4 linked regions of the Homo sapiens genome follow. The protein of the gene in region 1 purifies or fractionates together with the protein of each later gene. This does not show direct contact. Each region holds a gene or a part of one and is shown in the gene's direction. Other genes may lie near its edges.

Region 1 (3,322 bases):
GTTGTTTTTGGTATACTTGGAGAGCTGGCTTTCTAAAGTGCTGCTTTGAGGACTGTTGTGTAAAGCACTTGATTCGTCTTCCCTTTGCTGGAGTTATGGGCCTGGGCTTTTACACTGGGGTTCTGAAGTAACAAACAAAGTCAGTCCAGAAATAGTTGCTCAGCAATCTCATTGTTACAGTGTCGCAAAATGAGCTCATATTAGCTTTATTTTCTGCTACCAATAGAGTGTTCCTAAGTATTTAAAGTGTGTGACTCCTTTCTTATAGAGCCAGCAAGCTGTATTGGAATCACTTTTCCAGTGTTGTAAATGTTATTTTTGTGGGTCAGTCAGTATACTCGTGAATGACAGAAAAACAGATCCCAACAATGCAAAGTATTATATGTGTAAAAAAGAACAGAAAAAAGAAGCTGCCTTGTTAGTAACGGGGTCTATGGTTTTTCTCATCAAGAGGTCATGACGCCAGTCAGATCACACTAGCCTTGGGCACAGCTGCCTCCTACCCCAGGGCCTGCCAGGCTCTCGGGGCCATGCTGTCCAAAGGAGCCCTGAACCCTGCTGACATCACCGTCCTGTTCAAGATGTTCACAAGCATGGACCCTCCTCCGGTTGAACTTGTAAGTTGCTTCTCAAGAATCCCCAATGTCAGCTGGTAAGGTGACTTTGGAAAGTCTGTGCTTGTCTGATTGTCTGAAGGCTGTGAATGCAAATCCATCATTGTCCTGGTCCTTCCTCAGTCACACTCTCTGCCTGGAGCCTGTTGGGCCCCTGCTGTGTAGGGAACCCTGAGGGGAGGTGGGTGAGCAGTGCCCTCACGCCTGCCATCCCGAACTGGGCATATGCTTCTCCTCAGATCCGCGTTCCAGCCTTCCTGGACCTGTTCATGCAGTCACTCTTTAAACCAGGGGCTCGGATCAACCAGGACCACAAGCACAAATACATCCACATCTTGGCGTACGCAGCAAGCGTGGTTGAGACCTGGAAGAAGGTACCATCGGTTCTGGGAATTTGTGGATTTTTTAGGAGACAAATATCCTCCTCTGCTTTGATATTATTTTGGAATTTTGGCTGCAAGAAATCTTGACCCTCCCTAGTATCAGGCATGTGTTTTCTTGTGTTTCTGCGTAGAGAAAGCACTAAACGTCTCCAGAAAATGTGCGTAATGTCTCCAATGCTCTGCAAACCGTAAATTGAAATGTGACTAAAGAAATGAAACTGATTTCCGTAAGACATGGACAAACACTAGTCTCATTGCTTTTCAGTTTCTGTACACTGTGTGACTGTGAAGTTTGACAGCTGAATTGACTCCCAACTTAAGTAGAAATAGGGAAAGTGCTTTGCAAGAAGTGGCCGACACCAGAACACCCCGACAGCAGGGATATCTGCCCTGTCAGGCTCACCAGCTTGTGTGTGTGTTTTCAGAACAAGCGAGTGAGCATCAATAAAGATGAGCTGAAGTCAACGTCAAAAGCTGTCGAAACCGTTCACAATTTGTGTTGCAACGAGAACAAAGGGGCCTCTGAACTAGTGGCAGAATTGAGCACACTTTATCAGTGTATTAGGTAAGCAAAACGAAACTCAGTTCTTAAATCAGTCCTTTGGGGAGGAGGTCGTTTGAGTTTTCATATTGAAAGCTCAAATAACAAAAGCTTCAGCGATACTTGTTCATTTTATTTATTTTTTCATTTTTAAACAGTATGTAGGGAACTTTAAACAGCTTTAGCAGCATGAGTAATTTTCAGATGTTTATTTGCCAGAAGTCTGTTGAGTACAAATTAGGCTAAGTAAAAGATAGCCAGAGTTAACAAAAATTGATTTGAAGGGTCTATTTATAGGTAAAGTTATGCCCACAAAGTATTGCTTACATAGAAATGATTTGTGATTATGCCAATCATATAAATAGACGTGTCCTAGAAATAGTGTGTCCTCTTAGGCATGTCTTTCCCCTAATAATTTATACTAGGGATGAAGAAAGAGTTTGCTAAATAAAGGTAAACTTCAACCCAGTCCACCAAACTCACTGAGTATCACTCATTAATGATCTTTTCCTTTCGATAAGTGGTTTAAAGTGAGCAGAGAATTGAACTCTGCTTCTTGCACCGCATGTTGAGTGGCTGCTGATCCATTCACACTATTTACTAATAAGCAGAGCTTACGCCAGGCACAGTGGCTCTGGCCTGGAATCCCAGCAATCTGGGAGGCCAAGGCAAGAAAATAGTTTGAGCCCAGGAGTTTGAGACCAGTCTGAGCAACATGGTGGACCCTCTCTCTACAAAAAATTAGCTAGACATGGTGGCACTCACCTGTAGTCCCAGGTACTCGGGAGGCTGCAGTGAGCCATGATTGTGTCATTGTACTCCAGCCTGGAAGACAGAGTGAGACCCTGTCTCAAAAAAAAAAAAAAAAAAGGGTTGGGGGGCGTATTGAAGGGTGAATGATGGAGTCATTTGAGTTTGTTTTTAACTTTCCTTTAATGCTTTTCTAGCATATTTTGTGTTTTAAATTGTTTTTTAAAGGAAGCATTCTGCCTTAACTGTAGGTTTCCAGTGGTAGCAATGGGTGTGCTGAAGTGGGTGGATTGGACTGTATCAGAACCAAGGTACTTTCAGCTGCAGACTGACCATACCCCTGTCCACCTGGCGTTGCTGGATGAGGTAAGAGGGCGGAGAGCTGTTCACAGCCTACACAGTGTCTGTCTCATGCTGTTTACGTTGGCATTAACATTGCATCTATTCAGTGAGTTTAGAGGATACTCTTCTCAAAAATAGTTATTTCTGTCCTGAGGATTTTCCTCTTAAGGACCTAGCTTCATTGACTGCAGAAATTTCTTAACCTCAGTCAAGTGTTACTGGAAGCTGATGGCCCTGGCTTAGGTGTCAGGACCTTCTTCCACAGTGATAAGCTCTTTGGTGGCTGTGACAGTGCCCAGTTTCTCTGTGTGCTGAGCGTGACCACACTGCTCAGCGAAGCTCCCTCTGGCCTGTTTGTAGATCAGCACCTGCCACCAGCTCCTGCACCCCCAGGTCCTGCAGCTGCTTGTTAAGCTTTTTGAGACTGAGCACTCCCAGCTGGACGTGATGGAGCAGGTGAGCAGTGCCCGTGGGGCTTGCCAGAGGGCTGAGGAGGACCCTCTCTAACCAGCTCCCTGTCCCCCTTCTTCTGTAGCTTGAGTTGAAGAAGACACTGCTGGACAGGATGGTTCACCTGCTGAGTCGAGGTTATGTACTTCCTGTTGTCAGTTACATCCGAAAGTGTCTGGAGAAGCTGGACACTGACATTTCACTCATTCGCTATTTTGTCACTGAGGTCAGCAATGCACCGT
Region 2 (8,924 bases), on another chromosome or scaffold:
CTTTTTAGGGTTTGCCCATGTGCCATAGAAATTTGCACCGCTTTGAGCAAGACAGTTAATTGGTTGATTTAATTAGATTCAGTTTTTGGAAGAAAGAAGCAGTGTTTATTGGTAGAATAGGCAATTCAGAGGGATGGGTAGAGGCACTGTTTGCATTCTGAGTGGGTGTGCCATACTTGATTAAATAAATGGTTTGTGGACTCAAAGTCAGTTCCCTTCTGGGTAGTTTCTGAGAAGCTTCTGTAATATAATTCACAATTTGTGACCGATAAAAAAGTAAGTCCTTTGCTCTTGACCCATTTACTGTTAGAAAATTTATCTTAAGTTTGTCTTTAAGACTACTTTTTATTGCAAAGCTTGAGGCAGCTATTCTTCCTTTTTTAAAAAAATAATTTTTACTTCTCATTATAGAAATAATACATGTTTAATGTGGGATCATAAAACATTGAGATAATCTCTGCGTTAGGTTTTTTTTTTTTTGAGACGGAGTCTCACTCTGTCGCCCAGGCTGGAGTGCAGTGGCGCCATCTCAGTTCACTGCAGCCTCCACCTCCCGGGTTCAAGCGATTCTCCAGCCTCAGCCTCCTGAGTAGCTGGGATTACAGGCATGCGCCACCACGCCTGGCTGATTTTTGCATTTGTAGTAGAGACAAGGTTTCACAGTGTTGGCCAGGCTGGTCTCGAACTCCTGACCTCAGGTGATCCACCTGCCTCCGCCTCCCAAAGTGCTGGGATTACAGGCGTGAGCCACCACGCCTAGCCGGAGGTTTGTTTTTTAATGTGGTCTATTGTAAATCCATCTGCTACTTTCCGTTAATTTCTTTTCTTTCTTTTTTTTTTTTTTTTTGGCGAGATAGGGTCTCGCTCCAGCCTGGCCTGCAGTAGCACAGTCATAGCTTACTGCGGCCTCAACTTCTCGGGCTCAAGCGATCCTCCCATCTCAGCCTCCCAAGTAGCTGGGTCCACAGGTGTGCACCACTACAGTGGGCTAATTTTTTTTTTTGAGACAGAGTCTTGCTCTGTCACCCAGGCTGGAGTGCAGTGGCGCGATCTTGGCTCACTGCAAGCTCTACTTCCCAGGTTCACACCATTCTCCTGCCTCAGCCTCCCGAGTAGCTGGGACTACAGGTGCTCACCAACACACCCGGCTAATTTTTTTTTTTTTTTTGTATTTTTAGTAGAGACAGGGTTTCCCCATGTTAGCCAGGATGGTCTCGCTCTCCTGACCTTGTAATCCGCCTGCCTCAGTCTCCCAAAGTGCTGGAATTACAGGCTTGAGCCACCATGCCTGGCCTTTTTTTTTTTTTTTTTTTGTAGAGATGGGTCTTACTATGTTCCCCAGGCTAGTCTCTTTTTTACTTAAACAAACAAACAAAAATAAATAAAAATATATATATATAAAGAGAGAGGGAGACAGAGAGAGAGGGAGACAGAGTCTCACTATGTTGCCCAGGCTGATCTCAAACTGTTGGGTACAATCGATCCTCCTGCCTTGGCCTCCTGAAGTGCTGAGATTATAGGTGTGAGCCACCGCACCCAGCCACCCAGGCTGGTCTCAGACTCCTGACCACAAGCATCCTCCTGCTTCAGCCTACCAAAGTGCTGGGATTACAGCCACTGTAGCAGACTATTTTGTGATAATTTCTAAGTACAGTGAAATATGCGGTTGTACTGATACTATGGGTGTGATCCAGTCTTACTCCAAAAAATAGGTATTAAGGGCTGGGCACAGTGGCTCATACCTGTAATCCCAGCACTAAGGGAAGCCAAGGTGTAAGGATTGCTTGAGCCCAGGAGTTCAAGATCAGCCTGGGCAACGTGGCGAGACCCCATCTCTATTTAATTAAAAAATAATAAGGTATATGACCAGGTACCGTGGCTCACGCCTGTAATCCCAGCACTTTGGGAAGCCGAGATGGGCGGATCACTTGAGGTCAGGAGTTTGAGACCAGCCTGGCCAACATGGTGAAACCCCGTCTCTACTAAAAATGTAAAAATTAGCCGGGTGTGGTGGTGTGTGCCTATAATCCCAGCTACTCTGGGAGTCTGAGGTAGTAGAATCGCTTGAACCCAGGAGGTGGAAGTTGCAGTGAGCCAAGATGGTGCCACTGCACTTCAGCTTGGGCGACAGTGAGACTCTGTCTCAACAAAACAAAACAAAACAAAACCTCAGTTAGATACCATTTCACACCACTAGGATTGCTAAAATAATAAACCAGGTATTAAGTGTTCATGAGGATATAGAGAAATTAGAATCCTGATACATTGCTGGTGGGATTATAAAATGATGCAGCCACTTTAGGAAACAGTTAAACATAGAGTTAGCATGTGGCCCAGTAATTCTACTCCCAAGAAAAATGAAACATATGTTCCTGCAGAAACTTGTATATTAATTATAATAGCAGCATTGTTGATTGATTGATTGATTGATTCAGGGTGTTACTGTTACCCAGGCTGGCAGGACATGGCTCACCGCAGCCTCCACCTCCTGGGCTCAATCAATCCTCCCACCTCAGCCTCCCAAGTATCTGGGACTGCAGGCATATGCCACCATGAGTGGCAAAATTTTTTTTTTTTTGAGACAGAGTCTCACTCCGTTGCCCAGGCTGGGGTGCAGTGTGGCTCACTGCAACCTCCACCCCACTGGTTCAAGCAGTTCTCCTGCCTCCGCCTTCCGAGTAGCTGGGACTACAGGCACATGCCACCACGCCCAGCTAATTTTTTATATTTTTAGTAGAGATGGGGTTTCACCATGTTGGTCAGGCTGGTCTCAGACTCCTGACCTAAGTGATCCATCCGCTTCGGACTTCCAAAGTGCTGGAATTACAGGCGTGAACCACTGTGTCTAGCCCCACGTTATTTATAATAGCCAAAAAGTAGAAACAATCCAAATGTCTATCAACTGATGAGTAGATAAAATATGGTATATCCATATAAAAGGATATTATTCAGCAATACTACTGAAGGAATGCAGTACTAATACATGCAGGAGAATACTACATTGTTTATGGCCATGTGTTTATATAGTGAAAGTATTTAAAAATACAGGGGAATGATAAACACCAAATTCCCAATTCTTCTGAGGAGGAAAGGAAATATAGCATTTCCCCAGGACAGACTTCTTAAAAGGATTGGAGAACTACTTAAACATGTCAGATCTTGACACTGTCCTGATGGCCTCCTGTCACTAATAACAGAATACAAAATGGGGTTTACAAGGCCCACCATGAACTTTCCCATCCCTCTCTGACTTCATATCCTGCCAGGTCACTGCTTTCTAGCCAATCCGGGCTTTCTGATGTTCCCCAAACACATTGCCATCAAGCACCCCTCCCTGGGGCCTTATTATTATTATTATTATTATTATTATTATTATTATTATTATTTTGAGATGGAGCCTCAATCTGTCACCCAGGCTGGAGTGCAGTGATGTGATCTCGGCTCACTGCAACCTCCGCCTCCAAGTTCAAATGATTCTCCTGTCTCAGCCTCCCAAAGTGCTGGAATTACAGGCGTGACCTACCACGCCTGGGGTCCCTGGGGCTTTAGCCTTTACAGTTACCTCAGCCTGGAAAGCTTTTTCACAGAGTTCTCTTCCCTACTCCAAGTCCATCTGCTTACACCTTACCTCCACCCTGTTTAAAATGCTCTTTTTCCACGATTTTATTCTGATTGTAGCAGTGTGATCTGATACAGTATATCTATTTGCTTATCTGTTGTCTGCCTCTCTCACAGGAGTGTATTTCTAGTGCTCAGATCATGCCTAGCTCATAGCAGGGACTCAATAAGTATTGAATGAATAACTTTAATGTTTTATTTAATGGAAAAAAGATCTAAAGCATATAAGCTAAATCTTAAGTTTTGATAAAGCTAGATGTTGAATACAGTTTTATTTCTATTTTTTTGATGATAATTACTGTGTCATATTTCATACATACTCTGCTGGTTGACAAAAACTAGCTCCCTAAAATAATGTTACAGACATAAGTAAGAAATGGATTGTGGTGACACATAAGCTGTTAAAGAAACCCGTAGCCTAATTTATAGTGTATCAGGTTTGCAAGTGGTTTAAAACAATAGCGGTTTACTGAATGTTCTTACTAGCGTGAGGGGAGAGCTTGTGAGAAGTAGGAAGAGGCCAGAGAAGGTCCTGGGGTCTGGCACACTCTGATATGCTTCATCACCTCTCCCTAAGCTCTCCCTACAGGGCAGTGGGGCCAGTGGTGACTTTTGCGGCACCCTCTCCATTGTCTTACCAAGGGCTTCAGCTGTGAGACGCCGGTTGGTGCTACAAGGAAGGGGAAACGTGTCAGCTCTTTCCTCTGCTCTTTTCTCACATTGATTTCAAATGCCAAGAAGCTGGGCTGAGAAACCGGGCTTGTGATCCTGGTTGTACTGCAGTCCACCATGTGCTGGAGAGCTCTGCAGGTTGTGCTAAAGGGTAGTGTCTTTATTGCCTCCTGTATAAGCTTGACTTTTACATAGGCAAGCAGGTTATTTCCAGGACAACTAAATTAGTTGGTGCGAAACCTCATTTCCTAGAAACCCATTTTCTTAGTAGAGGAAACCCATATAACCATTTGTCTCCATGTAAGTGTAGCTAATAACATGAATAACAAAAATAGCTAATTATTTAAATAGCAAAAATAAGTATGGAAGATGAATTTGCAGTAAAATTCTAATATTAAGCCACTGATTATTTTAAAACAATCAGATTAAGTTGTAGTACCTCTGAAATAATTAAAGGAAAATTTGATTCTTAGAAAATCTCAATTCATTGGAAAGCCATGGAATTAATAAAATAAAAAAAGAAAATCTCAGGCAATATAAACTAAGGAATGGCAAATGGAAAATGTATTGATTGGTGGAAAAGTAATTGCGGTTTTTGACATTGAAAGTAATTACTTTTGCCATTACTTTTAATGGCGGAAACCATTTAATGGCAATTACTTTTGCACCAACCTATAAATAATTGGACTCTAGTTCCAACTTTGATATTTAGCTTTCCCATGACTGTTGACAAATTGCTTAATCTACTTTCCTTGATTTTGTCAGTCAAATGAGGAGGAAGAGACAGCTTGAGAAACATTTGTAAGAGAAATGCTTATTACTTTGTATGTGTTTTTCGTCTTACATATTAAATATAAATTCCTTTAGGTGATATTCTTTAAAATGATTTCCTTACTTCCTTTTATATTTACATCCATTTTCTCTTAAAAAAACAAACAAACAAAATACTGCACAATTCTTGAAGACAAGGATTACCTCTTACCTCTTATTTGTTTCATGAAATATAGAGTACAATTTTTTTTTTTTTTGAGATGGGTCTTGTTCTATCACCCAGGCTGGAGTGCAGTGGCGCCATCATGGCTCACTGCAGCTTCAACCTTCTGGGCTCAGGAGATCCTCCTATCTCAGCCTCCCCAGTAGCTGGGACTACATTCATGCACCACCACATCCGGCTAACTTTTGAAAATGTTGTGTAGAGATAGGGTTTCACTATGTTGTCCAGGCTGGTTTTAAACTCCTGGGTCCAAGCAATCCTCCCGCCTTGGCCTCCCAAAGTGTTGGGATTACAGGCGTGAGCTCCTGTGCCCAGCCTAGAGTACAGTTCTTGACATATAGATAGAAATTAAGTATTTGTAGAATGAGTGGAAAAAAAAATGAAATGATTATGTTGATTTTGAGTTTCTCGGTGGAATAGGGCTTTGGATTCCTAGAAGAGACTTTAATGTTGAAAAATTATTTTTGTAGTTTTGAAAATGTTAAAAAATTGAACATGAGAAATCTCCACTTCTCTGGGCATGTGAAATTAAAGGGAGGGATGATCAAGTTGTGAGAGATTCCCTAGGCCAGCAGTGCTGATGCAAGAAGGTGAACATGTAGACTGCTGTATTCTGTACACACACACACACACACACACACACACACAGTCCCCTCCCTCCTGGGAAAGCAAAAGTTGTTGTTGTTTTTTGAGACAGAGTCTCGCTCTGTTGCCCAGGCTGGAGTGCAGTGGCACGCGGTTTTGGCTCACTGCAACCTTTGCCTCCTGGGTTCAAGCGGCTCTCCTGCCTCAGCCTCCCCAGTAGCTGGGATTATGGGCGTGCGCCACCATGCCTGGCAAATTTTTGTATTTTCAGTAGAGAGAGGGTTTCACCATGTTGGTCAGGCTGGTCTCGAAGTCCTGACCTCATGATCAGCCTGCCTCGGCCTCCCAAAATGCTGGAACTACAGACGTGAGCCACTGCGCCAGGCAGCAGAAGTTTTTGACGATTTCTAGACAATGTGTGTAAAGACCTTTAGAGTCTAAAGTTAATGTTTGCATTTTGCAGTCTTAGGCAGATACAATGAGGTATAAAACACCTCTATCCAAACAACTGAGTTGGACTGGGCTGAAGATTTAAGTCCTTCAGTTCGGTGTAGTATCCCAAGAGTGGGATCCGTTGTATGTTTGTTACAGGCCACTCCCTCTAGCTTTATCTGCTAAGCACTGTGAGATTGTGCTTAATTTCACTTTGGTTTTCTAGTTCAGGCCTCCAGCCTGGAGGTGAATGTCCTGTGTAGAAAACTGGCCATAAATTTAGGGCTGTTATGAAATTTAGTCTGTCATGCCAACCCATATAGCTGTCATAAGTTCTGCTGGTTTTTCTTTCTCTTGATGGAGTTCTGCCTATGGCAAGCCCCAGTTATCATCACTCACGCTAAAGCTCTACAAGTACCACAAGTAGAGAGAGGAAATGGCTGGCACTTTCAGCTCACCTAGAGAGGCCTCTTCTCCCTCTGGAATTTTAATTCTGCTAGTCCTCTTTGCTATGCATAGAAGACAGCTCTTCAATCTTTAAAGCCATTTATTTATTTGAATAATCTATTTAGTTTTATCTAGTTGTTACTGTGAAAGCACTAGCTTGCCTCTCTCTATTAAAGCTAACCTGGAAGTCTCATTATTTTTTGAATTTTTGTTGCCACAAACATGACATAAGAATAAGTTTGTTCTGGGCCAGGCATGGTGGCTTATGCCTGCAATTCCAGCACTTTGGAAGGCCAAACTGGGAGGATTCCTTGAGGCCAGGAGTTCAAGACCAGCCTGGGCAACATAGGGAAACCTCATCTAAAAAAAAAAAAAAATTAACCAGGTATGGTGGCGGGCACTTGTATAGTCTCAGCTACTCTGGAGGCTGAAGTGAGAGGATTACATGAGCCCAGGAGTTTGAGGTTACAGTGAGCTATGGTTACGCCACTCTACTCCAGCTTGGGCAGCAACAGAGTGAGACCCTGTCTCTTTAAAATAAATAAATAGGCCAAATGTTTAAAGTAGAAAGTCAAAGTGGCCAGCCATTCCACTACAAGATAACCAGTGTTTTCAGTTTGATTTATAGCTTTCCAGATTAGCATGTGTGTGCATGACTTTGTCATTTTACCTTTTTTTTTTTTTTTTTTTTGAGAAAGAGTCTTGCTTTTTTGCCCAGGCCGGAATGTGGTTGCAGGATCTTGACTCACCGCAACCTCCGCCTCCCAGGTTCAAGCAATTCTCCTGCCTCAGCCTCCCGAGTAGCTGGGATTACAGGCATGCACCACCACGCCCGGCTAATTTTGTATTTTTAGTAGAAATGGGGTTTCTCCATGTTGGTCAGGCTGGTCTCAAACTCCTGACCTCAGGTGATCCGCCCGCCTTGGCCTCCCAAAGTGCTAGTATTACAGGTGTGAGCCACCGCATCTGGCCGGGAAATATTTTTTAAAAATTTCTTGAAGCCCTTAAAGTTTACAGGCTCTGCTAACATGATAAATACCCAATAAAAATATAGAAAAGAAATTCTAAGAGATTTTAATATAGAATCATTATCTGTTAACTGTTTTAGTTGAGAGCAACAGAAACTGAGTCTGGTTAAACTAAGCAAAGAGTGATTTATTGGAAGGATGATAGGTATACAAAAATGGGATGGGGGATGAAATTGAACAAGTCTCAGAAAGGCAGGAATTGGCACAGCTCTTGGGACCTCAGTGGCAGGAGTTTGTGAACCCTTTCTTCAGGACATTGGAGACCCACTGCCCTTCAGACTCTCTCCCCATTGACATTTTAAATCCCCATAAAAGAGGGTTGTTGGATTTCTTTCGGCAGAGGTGTCTGTGCTGCATCAATCAGTTATGGTCCAGGAAATATAGTCACAACAAAGCATACACGTGACCACCAGGGGCGCATCCCTGCATATCAGGGAGTATTCCCAGAGAAGGGAAGTTGACACAAACCGGATTGCCTCTCCAGTGGTGTGCACCACAAAACCAGACTGGAGCACGTGGTGGGGGCAGAGTGGAGGGAATGGTATTACAGGCTCAGAACGTGTCAGCAGTGGAGGAGAACTCAGATGAAGATGCAGAATTTGTGGCAGAGCTGCACTTGTACTCCAGTCTTCAGGCTCTTGCATCTCTTACACCGTGATGCTTATCTAGAGATGGAAAAGTGTTACAGCGGAGGCTTGGGTGGCCAGTGTGATAACTCCTGGGCAGACATCAGTGCCCAGTGTGTACAGGATGCCACTGAACTGAAATGGAAATGTTCCACTCCATATATGCTTGAAGATCTCCTTTTGGGGGTTTTCAATAGCAAAATGGTAATGTCAAAATATAAATGTGTTTCACAGCTAGTTTTGGAAACATTTTTCATTCCATTCCACATGAGATACTTACTGACAAAAACTAAGGAATTTATGCTGCCTACACGAAAAACTATGGACTTCTACTTTTCAGAATTTCCCTGCTGAAAAAAGGAGACACTTCTGGACATACACATTCAGAGCACAGTATAGCCTATGTGATTTGTGTAAAGCTCCAAACTGTTCTCTCTAGTATGTGTGATATGCAGTAGGGAGAGGCCAGTACATTTCAGTAAAATTGCAAGGACAGTTTCAGCAGAACTGATTTTAAGGAGC
Region 3 (8,924 bases), on another chromosome or scaffold:
CGAACGGTGACTCAGGCCTCCGTGTGGAGGTAGCTTGGGTGCTCGGGCCCAGCTGGGGGCACCGGCGGGAAGTTTGGACTCCCAGGGCCGGCACTCGAGGCGCTAACGCTCACCCCTCAGTGGCGCCCCAGATTCGGGTTTGGGGTGTTGCGCTGGGACTCACTGGTGAGGCCCAATGGCTTCGGCTTCCTCACTGGGAGGAGCCACCGTGAGTCTGGACCCATAGCCCCGCGTCTGTGATGGTTGGTCCATTTACTGTTCACCTGGGTTACTCACCACTTAAACTTAGTTCAAGTCTACATAACCTCCTTTTCTTTTTGTTTTAGCAGTCTTTCTTTGTCTTTAAACCTTTCCAGAATTGAATTGTCAGTAGTTACGCCAATGCTGCTTAACTTTTAGGATGTTACAAATGAAGCCTCATTAAGTAGGATAGGAGGGTAAGATACGGGGTGCTTAATACACATTATTGCCTCATTCCTGTTCCTCACCATTTTGATCACTTAACTGTGACCTAACTTAATGCTTTATAAGACCCTAAAACTTGCCGGGTGTGGTGGCTCACGCCTGTAATCGCAGCAGTTTGGGAGGAAGAGGCAGGAGGATCACATAAGGTCAGGAGTTCAAGACCAGCCTGGGCAACATAGCGAGACCCTGTCCCTACAAAAATAAAATATTTTTTTAAAAGAACCTAAACCTTACACATTTTTTTTTTTAGCTTCAAAACTAAAGACCTGGTTTTTTCATTGTAGATAATAGCAAATTGCTAACATTTATTGAGTGGCTGTTGTTTTCAGGAACTTGTCTAAGTGCTTTACTTGTAATAGCATATTCCACTTTCATAAATATAAGAAGTAGGCCTCAGTATTGCCATTCTTCAGATAAACTGAAGCTCGGAATGGTTAAGAAACCTTCTGATGTCTCATAACTAGTTAGAAATAATAGAACTGGAACTGGGAAACCTGGCCTGATTGACACCAAAGCTCTTAACTTCAGCTGTACTGCTTCTGTTTGTGAGATTGCTGTTGCCAGTTAGGTTTTCAAAATAGGCTGCTTTATTGGCTGATGGTTGATGAGTAGGATTTGTAAATATTTACCTTATAAGAAAAGGAGATTACTTTCTGAAGGTGGTAGAAAGAGAATTGTGGTTAATGGGGTACACATCCTGTTGCATCAAGCAATTACTACTTCACTAAAATTGTCCCAAGTTGTATACCCTATGATGATCCTATTGTGCATAAAACCACATAGCTGGAACATTTGTTCTATTTATAATGTACTGTTACTTTGTTTAGTGGAAGAGAACATTAGTGTACATGCTACAGAAACTGGTAAACTAACCCAAAGCACATTTCTTTTCAGTTCTGGAATTAATTATGTGTTGTAGGCATTCTTAGTTTTTTGTTTTGGTAATGGATTTATCTATTCAGTCATGTTTTCTTTAGCTCGCTTTCAAGTTGCTTCATAATCCGCCAACATAGAGCTGTGTCGTAGAAAGCTGGCCTATTGAAGGTAGGATCTACTTCTTACTCAAACTTAATACTTCAAATAGCATTCTTCATTATCATATACAGGGTGGAATGTTAGGCACTTTATTTGCATTACATAATCTAATTATCACTATCACCTTGAGAATATGGAGGCTTAGAGACAAAAAGAAAAACAAACAAACAAAACTTGCCATTATGTCCAAGCCAGGATCTGAAAGGTCTAACTCCCTGATCCAAACTTTATCTGTAACATTTAGCAAAGTGCCTGATACATAGTAGGTGGTCAATAAATGCATGTTGAATGAATGATGAATGAACCCGCATTTAAAATGAGTAGTTAGTTGATAATTGACTGCTTAAAAACGATCTAGAGATAACTATGTACCTGATGGTACACTTGATTTTTTTCAGCAACTTTCATCAGCTTTTGCGAGTGTAGTTTGTGCTTGTTCTAAGTTTATATGTGAGCAGCAATTTTTCAAAGTGTCAGTAGTTATATAGTAAAACAAAACAAAAAGGTAAAAGGAAAAGCAAAAAAAAATTATTCTTTCTAAGGACAAAAGACTCACAACAGACTTGTTTATTAACATTAAGTAATTGACCATTTATGGGTCTCCTTACAGAATGTTTGTTGTCTTCAGGTATAAATGTGTAGAATTAATTCATTCAGGAAACTTTCCATTTTAGAGTGAGAAACATTTTTAATGCCTTTATTTTGTTCAAGTTTCTCTTCTCTGGTTTATGATTTGGAGAGGTTTTTCTTAATTTGAATTTGTGAGAAAATCATCCCACAAGGTGAAACCACTCAATATTTACTCATGAAAGTTGTTCTGATGAGTAACAAAAGCAAAAGAAAAACACTTCAGAAAATATCACCAAAGAATTATTTCTTTTCTGAGAATCTACATTTCCGACATGTTTTGGTCTAGTCAAGGTTTAGAGTCTGTTACTATTCAAAATGTGATCCATGAAACAGCAGACTTGGCATTGCCTGGGAGCCTGTTAAAATTGCAGCATCTCATCATTCCTCAAACCTAGACCTACTTAATCAGTGTGGGCTTTACCAGGATTCCTAAGAGAGATGTTTGAAAAAACATTAAAGTTTGAAAAGTATTACTTTAAAACAGTGACCTATTTTCAATCTTTTGGTATTTGAGTTTTCACTTCAAGTATTAATGCCCTGATTTACTTTCAAGTTCTTTCTGTACTTTGGAAAATTATTTTTCTTGTAAGTATGCCATTGACAAATTCACTAACAGATACAAATTAAAATTGGTGTTGTTAAGGCAGCCTATGAACATCTCTGCAGTCTATAACAGATCTTACTTTCAAACGCTTTGTTGAGTGTCAGTGCTCCAGAAAGTGGATTTTATCCACTCTCGGGTAACTTGGAGTATAGAGGTTGCCACATGAAAGTCGTTACTGGTGGTTCGACTAATAGATTTTCTTTTGGGAGTGGGTCTTTCTTTTGGGAGTGGCGTTGCTACATCCCATCTTGCATAAGAATATGTTTGGTAGGATGTTCATTTAATCATTTTAAGGAAAGGGAATTTTTATTGTTTCTTCTCTCTCTCTTTTTTTTTTTTTTTTTTTTTTTTTGTTTGTTTGAGATGGAGTTTCACTCTTGTTGCCCAGGCTGGAGTGCAGTGGCGCGATCTCGGCTGACTGCAACCTCCACCTCCTGGGTTCAAGCGATTCTCCTGCCTCAGCCTCCCGTGTAGCTGGGATTACAGGCATGTGCCACCATGCCCGGCTAATTTTGTATTTTTGGTAGAGACAGGGTTTCTCCATGTTGGTCAAGCTGGTCTTGAACTCCCGACCTCAGGTGATCCACCCGCCTCTGCCTCCCAAAGTGCTGGGATTACAGGTGTGAGGCACCATGTCAGCATAGTTTCTTCTCAATAGCCCTTCAATGTAAAGTGCAACATCTGGAAGGAGTCTCTGAAGGTACAAATGCTGCTTTTATTTTTTCCCCCATTCTATAGCCTGTGAATTGGTGCTACATTGGCATTTCCTCACAATTATTCTAATTGGTGGGTGTGTAATCTTCTGGTCATTAAGCAGGAGCTGTAAAAAATCATATTTAGGATCTTTGTGATATACAGCCTCCAACTTCTTGACTACTTAAACTGATTTAGAACAGCCTTTATTAGGAAGACATTCAAGGTCCTGGGTGTGATTGATTTTGATATGATTTTGGAAGCTTTGAAATGGTTAGAATTCTAGGACCGGAGGGCAACTTAAAAGTCTAGAGAAGATTTCATTTTTCAAATCATACGGTCAGGTTGGTGGTGATAGAGTCAAAAACTGAAGTAGTCTATAATTTATTTAAAACTTTTTTTTTTTTTTTGAGACAGAGTCTCGCTCTGTCACCCAGGCTGGAGTGCAGTGGCGCAATCTCGGCTCACTGCAAGCTCCACCTCCTGGGTTCACACCATTCTCCTGCCTCAGCCTCCCTAGTAGCTGGGATTACAGGTGCCCGTCACCACGCCCGGCTAATTTTTTTTGTAGAGATGGGGTTTCATGGTGTTAGCCAGGATGGTCTCGATCTCCTGACCTGGTGATCCGCCCGCCTCGGCCTCCCAAAGTGCTGGGATTACAGGCATGAGCCACCGCGCCCAGCCTAATTTATTTAAAACGTTGACTACTTTTCCATATCAAATTATTGAAAGAGTTTTAAAAAATATTTTTATTAGTTTCTCTGACAATTAGATGTGGATTCGAGTAAAAGAGGGAAGAGAACAAGTGCTCCTTTAGATTCTTTTATTCTCTTCCTGTGCCAGAATTGAAAGGGTTTTTTTTTTTTTTTTGAGAGAGAAGCTTTTTTAGAATATTTAGAATGAAATTGAGTTTGCCTGCAGCAGCAATAGCGTTTACAAGAGTGATATTATACTAAGTATTCTATACTTTTTCTGTATTAGGTGAAATTTCTATATAGTCTGAAGAAATCAGGAGCAGAATACTACCCACCTTCCCACCCTCTGGCCCCTGGAGAAATTTCTGGATAAGACAGTGTTATGATGGGAATCTGTCTGTTGAGGCAGACAACAGACTGGTGATCCCCTAATGCTGCCAGCATTCTGGAATAAATGAGGCATTATCACCTGTGCCTTAAAAAGTATGACATCTTACAGTGGTTCTTAACCAAGGGAGTGTTTTTGGATGTCACACTGACTTGACAGGTAGGAGTGTAGAAAAACTGCCAGCATTTAGTGGGTAGAGGTCAAGGATTTTATATTTGTGCCTGCACGAGGAAGAACTGCCCTGTGAAAAATGCTATTGAGAAATATTTATGTGAACAGCATATACCAACAGGACTAAACATTCAATAGGAGGATTCCTTAGAATCTTAAATGTAGAAGATAGATGTGACCAGTATTGATAATGTCACACACCATGCTAGTCAGTTTACCTAGTGCCAAAAAGGGCTTTTGCTGTTTTTGCATTATTAAATGTAATATAGTGGACATAACCATTAAACATTTGAATTAGTTACATGGTGGTAGCAAGAAATGGAGAACTCATGTTACTAAAAATTTTTAAGAAAAAATGTGTAATCTGTATAATGATTCGAAGAGTACCTGTTGAATGTCCATTTTTGATAATTGTGTGCAAGAAGAAAGTTTTTGAACCCCAGGATAGAATAAGCATGATGAATCTAGGATTAGGCCTAGGTTCAAATCTACCATTCATAAACTTTCAGCTAGTCACCTCATGCTAGTTACTTAACTTCCTCTTTAAAATATTTTTGTAGTATATTATATAGGATAATTGTATAAGTAACCGCTTATGGTAAAAATTTAAACTTAATGAGAGTATAAATTAAAAAGTAAAAACACAGTTTCCCTCTACAATTCCCCAAAAAAGTTATTTATGTCCCAGTGATAACCAACGTTAAATGTTTTTTTCTTTAGTATCCTTCCAGAATGTATTTATAAATTGTACTTGTTTGTATGTATCCTTTAAATACATACACAGAAGACATACGATATATACTATTTCCTCCTACTTGATTTTTATTATTTAATGTATCTCAGGTACATTTTTGCATCAATATAAAAATCTACCTCATGCCCTCATTGTGTTCATCTTAAATAGTCTATTTAACTAGTCCCTTCTTGATAGATATTAGGGTTTTTTCTTTGGTTCTTTTATGTATGTGTGTGTGTGTGTGTGTGTGTGTGTGTGTGTGTGTGTTTTTAAGAGACAAGGTCTTGCTCTGGTGCTCTGTCACCCAGGCTGGAGTACAGTGGCGCTGTCACAGATTATTACGGCCTTGAACTCCTGGGATTGAGTGATCCTCTGTCTCAGCCTCCCTATCAGCCTCCCTAGTAGCTGGGAGTACAGGCATGTGCCATCTCACCTAATTTGTTCTTTCAAATTTTTTGTGGAGATTTGGTCTCGTTATGTTGCCCAGGCTGGTACTGAACTAATGGCCTCAGCAGTCTTCCCATCAGTCTTCCCAGGTGCTGGGATTACAGGTGAGCCACTGCACCTGGCCTTTAAAAGAAAAAAAAAAAATGGAATATGCTGCAGTGAATAACCTTATAGCTTTAGGGTTTTTGTTGCTTGGGTTTTGTTGTTTTTTTTCTGTTACAGATAATGAATATGTTTACATCTTTTTGTGTGTGTGCTAATCTATAAGATAAACTCCTAGAGAAGAATTGCCAAATTGAATTGGCAGACTCATTTTTTATAATATAATTTTTATTTTGAAATAATCTCAAACTTACAGAATAGTTGAAAGTACAGTACAAACATTTTTCTCTAAACCATTTGTGAATAAGTTGCCAACCTGATGGCCATCACTCCTGAGTATTTTAATGTGTATTTCCTACAAGGACATAGTCACAAGACAACCATCAAAATCAGGAAATTAACGCACTGATGCATTACTATAGGTTGAGCATCCCAAATCTGAAATCCTCCGGAATCTCAAACTTTCTGAGTACCAACATGAAATTTCAGATTAGGGGATTTGGGATGCCCAGTTGTAAATATATAATGCAAGTATTTCAAAATTCAAAAAAATACAAAATTTGAAACACTTCTGGTCTCAAGCATTTTGAATAAGGGATACTCAACCTGTATGATCTAACCCACAGATCACTTTCAGCTTTCTCCCATTGTCTCAATAATGTCTTACTATAGAGTCCTGGATTACATTATCTTGTCCTGTCTCTTTAGTCTTCCTTAGTCTAGAGCATTTCCTGTTTGTCTTTAACTTTAATGATTTTCACACTTTAGAAGACTACAGGCCAGATATTTTGTAGAATGTTCCTCACCTGTGCCTATTTCCTCATGATAGAAGTTCTACATTGTAGTCCTGGTGCTCTGTTCTAATGACATCTTTTTAGGTGGAACATTATTCTCATTTGTTCCATTACTGGGGATGTTCACTTCAATCACTATTAAGGTGGTGTTTGTTAGGCCTTTCCATTGTTAGGTTACTAATTTTCCCTTCCTAATAGGCAGTTTTGGGGGAGGGACTTTGAAACTATGTAAATACAGTATTCCAGTGATCATCAAACTTGTAACTTGTTCATCTTTTAAAAAATGTATAGCAGTGTGGACTAGTGGATTCTGACTCAGTAGGTTATAATTTGTAACTATTATTTGGATTCTCAGATTGTCCCATATTTGAACATGCAGAACTCCTTCAGGCTGTCTTCTGTGTCCTTTTGCCATGTCTCCATTATTCTTTGTGCATTTCCTAGCATTCTGGCACAAGGTGTATTCCAAACTAATTTTATATGTGAAATCAGCCGTTGCTCCAATGTGATTTCTTTTTAGTGGAGAATGGTATTTAGAATGCAGGGTCTTCACTTTGCTTATGTTTATTGCATTTGGGATATTCCTGCTCCCAGACCCTCTAAGTGGAAGGAACTAGGGATGTACAGGAGTGTGTGTGTGTGTGTATGTATAAAACCATGGGTTCACACAGATGTCTCCAATTGCAGTTCAACACCACTGGATTCATTCTAGTTTTTTCCCTTTCTACATTTGTTATTCCCTTCTCCAATAGTGAGAAACCTGGCTTCCATTATCTTCAATGTATTGTCTATTTGGTCATCCCCCTTCCTAACCAATCTTTGCTGCCCCCAACAGGTGCCCTTCTTGCCCAACTTGGGCTCCACATTTTATGCCAGGCCACCCTCCCATCCTCTAGTGTGGGTGACTTCGTTCTGTCCAGGCTCTGACACACCAGCCACACCATGCTGCCCCTCTCCAGGAATGCCCTCCTTGCTCTACTTGGGCTTAGACACCTCATCTTAGACCTGGCATATCTTAAATTTTGACAGATACTCTCAAATTGCCTTTGAGAAGGGTTATGCCAATTTATGTTTTCATCTACAGTTCACCTTTTCCCTCATAAGCTTGCTACACTAGATAGTAAACATGTTAGTCATTACTGACCTCATGAATGAAAAATAAAATTGTATCATTTTGATTTGGATTGATTTTTTTAAGTAAGATTAACCATTATGTTTTTCTCTGAGCTGTTACCATCTTAATCCTCAATTTCATTATCTGTAATATATGGCTAATAATATTTATTAGAGTCATGAAAGAATTACATTATTGTAATGGTTGGCCTGGGCTACCATAACAAAATAGCATAGACTGGGTGGCTTAAACATCAGAGATTTATTTTCTCACCCATTCTGGAGGCTGTGGAGTCCAAGATTAAAGTGTAGGTCGATACAGTTCTTGGTGAGGCCACTCTTCCTGCCTTGCACAAGGCTGCCTTTGTGCTGTGTTCTCTTGTGGCAGAATGAAAGAGTGCATGCTCTCTGGTGTCTCTTAAGGCACTAATCCCATCATGGGAGCCCTACCCGCAAGACCTCATTCAATCCTGATTACCTCCCGAATACCATCATATTGAGGATGAGGGCTTCAACATAAGAATTTTTGGGGGGGTTTTGGGGGGCCAGGGTACAAAGATTTAGTCCAGAACAATGATACATATGTAAACAGAGTCTGGCACAAAGTTGGTATTCAGTAAACATTAGTCTCCTTTTTTCTCTCCCCTCTAATGTACTTAGGAGTTTGGATTTTGGATGATGTTTAATATTTATTTAGAATTTGAGCTGTGTCTGACATGTATTTAGTAATTTTGAATATATTCAAAATTAAGCTTGTTAAATTTGTGAATTATTTGATAATTGATTTATTTTGCAGTATTAGAAACTTGTAAATTTAAAAAAATTGCCATTAAATGTTTTTCCACAAGTACTTAATAATGTGGTTATTCATAGAAAGACACATAAAATAGTAACATACATTATTTAGGGGTATATACAGATTGGAATGAAAAACCCCCAAATCAAGATGCTGGTGCTTGGGAAGGGATAGTGAGAGGTGTGAACCAGGATATTAAACACTGAAAAACTCTTTGAAAAACTATTTGGTTAGCTATTTCATTGGTTCTATGGA
Region 4 (8,924 bases), on another chromosome or scaffold:
GATCACGCCACTGCCCTCCAGTCTGGGCGACAGAGCAAGACTCTGTCTCAAAAAAAAAAACAAGAAAGTAGAAAATTGGAGAGAGGAAGGGACTGATGACAGTGAAAACATTTTTGAGGAGATTGAAGAGAAGAGCCAGAGAACTCTGATCTTTTAAAGTAAGAGGTAAAGGTTGTTGCTGAAAATGAAGGAGGCGTGGGTAGAACAAGACTTGAAGTAGTCAATGACCCAAATTTGATAAAAATCCCCAAAAAAGATGAGTAAAAGCATTGTGAGGTGTTTTGTCTCAGGAAGTTGTCTCTGCTAGATCTTCTTTTTATATTCAAAAGTAACCTTAAATTTCTGTCCCATTCATGATCATCATAGAAGATCACAGCAATAAAGATTTGACAGTAACTCAACTTGCCAAATGAGCTTTTAGGTTGTGTTTAAGACCTGTTGAAGGGGAAATATATTTTAAATCAGTCTTTTCTCAGCATGCCTCCTAGAGAGAATTAAGCCCACTGCCCTAAGGATCATTGTATATATTGAATTAACTTTTCTCCTATAATGGCATTTTTTGGAGAATGGAGAAAATAGTTATTCAAATAATTATCTGTTCTGTAATTCAAAGGAAGAATTTGGCTTGAAAATGCTAGTATAAACTATTCATATTTTCTGACTTGAGAGAATGTTTTTATTTTTGTTTTAAATTTTTCCAATTTTCATTGTTTCTGTAATTTAAATCCATTAAAATATTTCAGACATTCCCATTTGATACCAAAGGCCATCATGCATAGGGATATAACCCTTATTGATCACACATTATGTTACCTAGCATTTACTAGTATTTTTGACAAGATAAATCTACCATTTTTCTCCAAAGAACTCAATATTATGCTTTATGGTTACTAGGACTTCATGAATAACACTTCTTCAGAATATTTCCTGATATGACACTATTGACCTGGGCACAAAATTGTGATTTGTGAATATTTAAAATTCATTGGCCGGGTGCGGGGGTTCACGCCTGTAATCCTAGCACTTTGGGAGGCCGAGGCGGGCGGATCACAAGGTCAGGAGATCGAAACCATCCTGGCTAACACGGTGAAACCCTGTCTCTACTGAAAATACAAAAAATTAGCTGGGCATGGTAGCATGCGCCTGTAGTCCCAGCTACTTGGGAGGCTGAGGCAGGAGAATCGCTTGAACCCGGGAAGCAGAGGTTTCAGTGAGCAGAGATCAGCGCCACTGCACTCCAGCCTGGACGACAGAGCGAGACTTCGCCACTGCACTCCAGCCTGGACGACAGAGCGAGACTTCGTCTCAAAAAGAAAAAAAGTAAATTTATTTACTAGATAATTCTATGAACTAGAGGTTCTCAAAATGTGGTCTGCGATTCCTTAAGAGTCCCTAAAACTCTTTCAGGAGGTCCACAAATTAAAATTATTTTCTTAACAGTGAGACGCTATTGGCACCTTTCACAATGTTGATATTTGCACTGATGGTGTAAAAGTAGTGGAAGGTAAAACTGCTAGTGAAGTGACACCAAATTGTACTGTTAGTATATTCTTCATTGTGACAGTTTTTTAAAAAGTCATTTTCACTTAAGAATGTCATTGATGAAACAGTAAAAATGTTATTACCTCTCCACACTTGAGTATGCATCTTTTAAATTCTGTGTGGTGAAATGGGGAGTATGCATAAAGCAGTTCTACTGCATACCGAAGTATCGTAGTTGTCTCAAGGGGAAACACTTGTAGCGTTTTTAAGTTGTGAGCTTTACTTGAAACAATGACTGAGAAACTCTGCTTATTCAGACTTGAATATTTGGTCGACATTTTTTAAAAACCTGAAAGAGGTTGGCTGGTCCCTGACAGTATTTCTTGCCAATGATAAAATTAAAGCTTTCAAGTGAAAGTTCGAATTTTGAAAAACTCACTGAACTTGATGGATTTCCAATGCTTAAAGGCTTATCAGTTGAAGTAGGTGGTGAAATTAGTGAATGTGTAATTTTTTTAATACAGTATCATGATGTTGTTAGCATCTAGAAGATGTGCATAATTCAGTGGACCAGCATTTTCCAAACGACCAATGCTTAATGGTAGAAAAACATGCATGAGAGAAAGATCCATTCAAAGTATGGACTTAACCAATGGATTTTAATGTAACGAAGTATAAACAGCTTATTGATACGGTTTCAGATTTTACCTTGCAAGTAGCCTTTAAGAAACTACCACTTCTCGAATTTCGAAGAATTTCAAGTAATGAAAAAACTATTAAGATACTCCTCACTTTCCAACTAGGTATCTGTGAGACCAGGCATTATTTTGTAGACATTAACCAAAACAACATATCACAACATATTGAAGGCAGAAGCAGATAATGAGAAACCATCTGTCTTCTGTTAAGTCAGATTATAAAGAGTTCTGCAAAAATGTAAAATATTGCCACTCTTTTCACTAAATTTTTTGAAAACATAGTTATTTTTCATAAAAACATGTTATTTTAATTAACATGTACTGGATTTATTTTTGTTATTTGAAAATGAATTAATATATAAATATTTTAAAGTTGTCTCAGGTTTAATTTTTAACATGGTAACATGCCAATAGCTAAAACTCACATAAACAAAAGCTCTTAGGGGTCCTCAAAGTGTTTAAGGACTATAAAGGAATCCTTAGAGCAAAAAGCTTGAAGACCACTGCTGTAAATCTTAAAATGTTGAATATTCTGATTTTTTTGATGTGTAAATGAAGAAATAAGTGCTTAGACTTGAAACTGTTTCAAAAGCTTAGCAAAGTAGTAGCTGAATTGTTTTGTAGGCCTATTCATGCACTTATTTAGTTAAAATCTCAAACATATTTTATTTGGCTTAGCAATTTAATTTTTTTAATGTTTCTTTTTAGCCTCTGCGACTTGATATCAAAAGAAAGCTAACTGCTAGATCTGATCGAGTTAAGAGTGTGGATCTGCATCCTACAGAGCCATGGATGTTGGCAAGTCTTTACAATGGCAGTGTGTGTGTTTGGAATCATGAAACACAGGTAGGAATTTTTCAGGACTGTATTAGAAATAAAATACTATGTGAGACTGTGTTTATAATGAAAGAGAAGAAATATTATAACAGAATCCAGAATCTATATGCAAACTGCTTTCTCAAGTTGGTACAAAGTATTTTAAATATGAAGGAACTAACATTTATGAGGGGATAGTTTGTAGGAGAAACTGTCCTGGGTATGTTATATACAATATTTAAATATAACAACTCTGACTTAGGTAGTATTAGCTCTTTTTTGAAATTGAGAAAACTGATGGTATTATAGAATCACTTGCTAAAGTATTTAATCGTTAGTTTTCCATTCAGTGAATACTCTATCTTAAGAATGATATCGTTAAATTTATTTTTCTCCCAGATGCCCAATATAATGATACACAGATAAATCTTTCACTCAGCCATATAGATTATATCAGGGAAATATTTATAGTCAGCTTTTGATTATACACACATCTTACAGATTGTCTGCCTGAATGCTTGACTCATTCTCTTTCACCTGAGTAAATAACATATCCTTCAAATTAGTTTGTCTCATATTTTCCAGTCTTCCTAGACTGTATTTAAGAGTACAAAGCATATAGTTAGCACTATACTATACAGTTGTGTCTACTTATATAGTAATTATCCTTAACGTCCAAAGTTAAGTTCTTGAAATCCAGGTAAAATTCGCATTTGAGGAATTTAAAATGGCAAAATGACATCAAGGAACCAAAGCCAGAAGTAAACCTAAAAACACCTTTATACTTTTATACTCACTGTAATGAAACAGAAATGACTGTACACTAAACTCATACCCTGTATTAGTCTGTTCTCACACTGCTGTAAAGAACTACCTGAGACTGGGTAATTTATGAAGGAAAGAGGTTTAATTGACTCACAGTTCCACAGGCTTAACAGGAAGCATGACTGGGAGGCCTCAGGAAACTTAAAATTTTGGCAGCAGGTGAAGGGGAAGCAAGCACCTTCTTCACATGATGGCAGGAGAGAGAGAGCAAAGTGGGAAGTGCCACACACTTTTAAACCATCAGATCTCATGAGAAGTCACTATCACGAGAACGGCAAGGGGGAAATCCACCCCCATGATCCAATCACCTCCCACCAGGGTCCTCCTCCAATTTGACATGAGATTTGGGTGGGGATACAAATCCAAACCATATCATAGTCCATCAGTGACATTTTATATAAATTAACATTTTGTTTTCTGCTGTATCTCAGTACCTATAACATTACCTGGCACATAGTAAATGCTCAATAATTATTTGTTCAACCAATGAATAATATGCATTTCACTTATCACTAGTTCAGTATTTGTGTTCTCTACAATTTCAGATCTTTATCTTGTGAATTGTTTTTGCTTTGATGCAAATAACTTTTTTTTTTTGCTTTTTGTTTAGTTCTTGAGATGTTTAAAATATTTCTGATTTTATGTTTAACAGATACGTTGGTGTCCTCTCTCTCTGATTATTCCTAGGGATTCCCTCTTATCAGCTACATTTACCTATCTCAGCTCTATCACTTGATCATCGTATGTTCTAAAGCCCAGGCGTACTTTTCTTATCTTTCTCTAGGCTTTATTGTAATATATCTCTGCTTTATCTGCATTTCCACTTTGCCTCCTTTTTCTCTTCTATACCTTTTTCTGCCCTATGACAGGACCATCTGCTTCCCCTTTCATAATTCATCTCAGTGGTAATTTCATGTTTAATTTCCTTCTTTCCTCTAAGAATGGAGGTTCTGTGAGGACAAGGATTACCCTCATCTTATTTCCCACTGTTGGTCCAGTGCATGAGGCACTACCTGATACACTGTCAGGCTCCTGGTAGATAGTAAGTCTTTGTTGAATGATTAATCTGTCTTTGATTCTCCCTGTTTTTTCCCTGTGTTTATATCACCAACAGCATTTACCACTCCTATATTGAGAGCAAATTCTTGAGAGAGCCAAAAAGGTTTTTGGAAGTAAAAAGGTTTTTAGATGTACTTGAATTTCAAATAAGGAGATGCTATATATTCTTTGAGGTGGTACATGCAGTGGTTTAAAAAACATAGTATTTTAGGATTTGAAGCCAACTTGCTGATTAAATTATATAGGCAAGCCTTTTAACCATGCTGAGCCTCTTTATTTATCTGAAGTGAAGATGATATTATTGCCTTGCCTACATCACAGGATTGTCAAAAAGATAAAATAAAATTAGATAAAATTGTGTATGAAACCTATAAAGTACCATATAAGTATTAGTCATTAGTTATACTTTCCTAATCTACGTTGAGTATTTGTATGTATTGTGTGTGTAGCTTTTCTTACTCTTTATTTGCATCAGTCATAGCCCCTAACATGGCGTTGAACCTTGGCTATTTCTTCTGCAGCTGCTTTATTTTTACTGCTCAGCAGATCCCTGGATTTGTTGGCTCCTCATGAGCTTTTGTGGATTTTTCTGCCGTGTTATAGATCGCATGTTGTGTCTACTCTCAGTTTCTGTATCATAGTCAGCTGGTAGTGATTCTACAGGTTAGAGTTGAAGTGCCTACTCATTCAGCCTTTGTCTAAAGAATCTTTGAACTCTGGCTTGAAAAGTCAGAGTAGGACAGTTCTTATGAACCGGTCCCTATTACTTTTTTAGTGCACATGGTTAATCAATCAGTAAGATTATATTGTGTTTCTTAGTTATTTCATTTTTGCTCTCTGATACAAAAAAGGATTAGAAAATGATAGTTTGACTTTCAGACTTTTAAGAACAGGCATCAAAGAAGGAGAACAAAGAGGTACCATGATCTCTGCTCTTTCTAGGAGGGTCTCTACCTTTATCCTATGTGTATAATTCCATTCTGAGCAGCTCGGAGGAACATATAAGTCACGGTGTTTTCATATTTTATTAAAAAGAAATAATAACATTTGTATGGAATCATATTGCTAAAGCATGCAAAAGAATTGTACCTTATTCATGAGTCACTTTTATGGGTTTCAATTTCAAAAAGACTGACTAGGTGCAGTGGCTCACGCCTGTAATCCCAGCACTTGGGAGGCTGAGACGGGTGGATCACTTGAGGCCAGGAGTTCGAGACTACCCTGGCCAACATGGTGAAACCCCGTCTGTACGAAAAATACAAAAATTTGCTTGGCATGGTGGTGCACACCTGTAATCCCAGCTACTTGGGTAACTGAAGCATGAGAATCACTTGAACCTGGGAGGCGGAGGTCGCAGTGAGCCAAGATTGTGCCACTGTACTGCACTTCAGCCTGGGTGACAGAGTAAGACTGTCTCAAAAAAAAAAAAAAAAAAAAAAAGAAAAGAAAAAAAGAAACTAAGAGCTAATTCATTCAACAAATATTTATTACACACTACTTGTGTGCCAGCCACTGTTCTATCCTCTGCCTATACAGTGTGAAAAATATTCCTGCCTTTGGAGAGCTTAGCAGGAAAGATTGGCACTAAACATAATTATGAGGTGCTACATTATGAAAGGGAAGTACAAGTTTCCATGGGTGGATTTTCAAGTCAGAGACAACAAGAGCAGAGGTGAGGCTGGGAGTAGCCAAAGGTGAGGCTGGAAAAGGGAGGGAAGGGCTGGAGCACAGAGGATCTGGAATACCATCTTGTGGATATTTGCCTTCTCTTATCTTTTAAAAAGTGTTTTAATTTCGAATCTATTAAAAGATAGTTGGTCTTTTTTAAAAATTTGAATGTTGAGCTTTTATATTTTAGCCTGAGAATATACTAAAATGAGAAGTGATCTTAAAAATTGGATGTTTGAAATATAACAGAGTAGATTTTGTGGTTATTTTCTTATAGCTCAATTTGTGTATTCTTGTTACATTTTAAAGACACTGGTGAAGACATTTGAAGTATGTGATCTTCCTGTTCGAGCTGCAAAGTTTGTTGCAAGGAAGAATTGGGTTGTGACAGGAGCGGTAAGTAATTAATATGAATCTCTATTCCCATTTTCTGAATTGGTCAATGATTGTGTAAATTTGTTGCAGGATTTTGATTCCCGATTTGTTTTGTTATTTACAGCAATGTTTTGAGGCATAGACTTTATTCCTTGAGCCTGTGATATAGTTTTTTTGTATAATTTACTTGATAACAGGGATGATGGTTTTAAAATTTCTGTTTCTAGGATGACATGCAGATTAGAGTGTTCAATTACAATACTCTGGAGAGAGTTCATATGTTTGAAGCACACTCAGACTACATTCGCTGTATTGCTGTTCATCCAACCCAGCCTTTCATTCTAACTAGCAGTGGTAAGAGATGACCTTTTTTGGTCATGTGCGTCTCTTTGGGTAATTCATTTTCATTCACTGAGACATGCTATGCTTTAACTGCTGTTACAAATATAATTCTAATTCCAAGCGGCCTTTAAACTATTTAGATCCATTACTGTGCTATTGATGCTGCTTGTGTTTGTACTATAATGAAATATCAACTGTACTTAGGATTTGTGTAATGATTGCTCCAGTTCCTGTCAGAGAAGACCTACAAGTCTAGATGTTTAAACATCTGCTGAACAGAAAGGTCATTTACATGTTGATGAGTGAGTTTTTGGCAGATTGCCATAGACCCTATTCAGTTCAATCTTTATATTCAAACTAGTTTGCTCCTTGGTATTGTGTATAAATAGTAGACCTCTTGGAGGACTGGAAAAAGAGGTAGCACTGAATTAGTAATAGCTCTTTGAAATGTTTTTAAATTAAAAATTGAGAAGTAATTAAAAACTTTTTAAAAACCAATCTTGTGAGGGCAAATGCTTGTTCTCTACATAGTCATTGCTATCACTATTCAGTCATGCTTAGATCTAGTCAAACTTATATTACTCTTTGGCCATTCTTTAATGCCCACTGAATTTTTAAGTTTTTTCACAGAATTTTTATATTTTCTATTTCTAATCTATTTTATTTATTTTATCTCCACTTTTCTGTAGAGAGTTAAATTTATTTTTAAGATAAATAAGCATTTTGAAAACTCTATTTGGTTTTGATTCTATTTCTGTAAGTCATGGATTATATGGTTTGTGTTAGGTTTGCTTCTTCTAAAGACTGTGTCTTAGTTATGAAGTGAAAAAATAGAATTACAACTAACTTGAGACTTTCTTTTGGCCTAGATGACATGCTTATTAAGCTCTGGGACTGGGATAAAAAATGGTCTTGCTCACAAGTGTTTGAAGGACACACCCATTATGTTATGCAGATTGTGATCAACCCCAAAGATAACAATCAGTTTGCCAGTGCCTCTTTGGACAGGACTATCAAGGTAGGGCATCCACATTTTGTGTCAGTTATCATTATTAGTGAACTATACTTGCCTTAGGTGTTTTACTGTTGACTGGTCAGAAATGTACCCATCTTAAAAATTTTCCTCAAAAGCCTGTTTTGAAGTCAAAATAGGATTTCTCATTTTAATCCAAACGACATGTTCTGTTTAGAAAAATATTGTGGCAACTCAGTGCTCTTAATGAGGAGCGTTTTTCTGTGTGGAGGCAGCATGTTATAAAAATTTTTTAGCCTTTGGAAACCCAGAATAAGAAAAATGCCAATATCTTTTTAGGATACTACTGTCCTCTCCTTTTAGTATTCATTGTTGACTTCTGCTCATCGTTTATCTATTTTACATTTAAATTCCATATGCCTCTATTCTCTCTTTCTTACTCCATTTTACCACACTGCTGTCTGTTATCTTTCTGAAACAGTTCCTGATCTAAGGATAAAGTCCAAATGCCTTAGTGTGGAATACAAGGATTTCCAGGACTAGCCTGGGCTAATATTATGCGACATCTCCTAAAACCCTGGTCTACTCACCATCCTCTAGAGAGGCTATGAATGTTCACAAAACCTTACTTCATTGAACTGTTCCATCTTCCTGCACTTCTCTTTATTTTCCTATTTTGATATATT

The links.
Region 2: the proteins of NELFCD (region 1) and SPTLC2 purify together in Homo sapiens (affinity purification with mass spectrometry; one large-scale study listed by BioGRID and IntAct). This does not show direct contact.
Region 3: the proteins of NELFCD (region 1) and SEM1 purify together in Homo sapiens (co-immunoprecipitation; one large-scale study listed by IntAct). This does not show direct contact.
Region 4: the proteins of NELFCD (region 1) and COPB2 purify together in Homo sapiens (affinity purification with mass spectrometry, with the first as the bait; one large-scale study listed by BioGRID). This does not show direct contact.

The regions. Positions count from the first base shown.
Region 1 is NC_000020.11:58,990,459-58,993,780, forward strand, and holds part of NELFCD (negative elongation factor C/D), read left to right. Parts: intron 1-451; coding exon 452-617; intron 618-853; coding exon 854-988; intron 989-1,422; coding exon 1,423-1,562; intron 1,563-2,539; coding exon 2,540-2,654; intron 2,655-2,990; coding exon 2,991-3,086; intron 3,087-3,165; coding exon 3,166-3,306; intron 3,307-3,322. UniProt on the Homo sapiens protein: Essential component of the NELF complex, a complex that negatively regulates the elongation of transcription by RNA polymerase II.
Region 2 is NC_000014.9:77,603,382-77,612,305, reverse strand, and holds part of SPTLC2 (serine palmitoyltransferase 2), read left to right. Parts: intron 1-8,924. UniProt on the Homo sapiens protein: Component of the serine palmitoyltransferase multisubunit enzyme (SPT) that catalyzes the initial and rate-limiting step in sphingolipid biosynthesis by condensing L-serine and activated acyl-CoA (most commonly palmitoyl-CoA) to form long-chain bases.
Region 3 is NC_000007.14:96,700,733-96,709,656, reverse strand, and holds part of SEM1 (26S proteasome complex subunit SEM1), read left to right. Parts: intron 1-8,924. UniProt on the Homo sapiens protein: Component of the 26S proteasome, a multiprotein complex involved in the ATP-dependent degradation of ubiquitinated proteins.
Region 4 is NC_000003.12:139,377,400-139,386,323, reverse strand, and holds part of COPB2 (coatomer subunit beta'), read left to right. Parts: intron 1-894; exon of another isoform or gene 895-1,320; intron 1,321-2,888; coding exon 2,889-3,026; intron 3,027-6,857; coding exon 6,858-6,944; intron 6,945-7,150; coding exon 7,151-7,277; intron 7,278-8,134; coding exon 8,135-8,283; intron 8,284-8,924. UniProt on the Homo sapiens protein: The coatomer is a cytosolic protein complex that binds to dilysine motifs and reversibly associates with Golgi non-clathrin-coated vesicles, which further mediate biosynthetic protein transport from the ER, via the Golgi up to the trans Golgi network.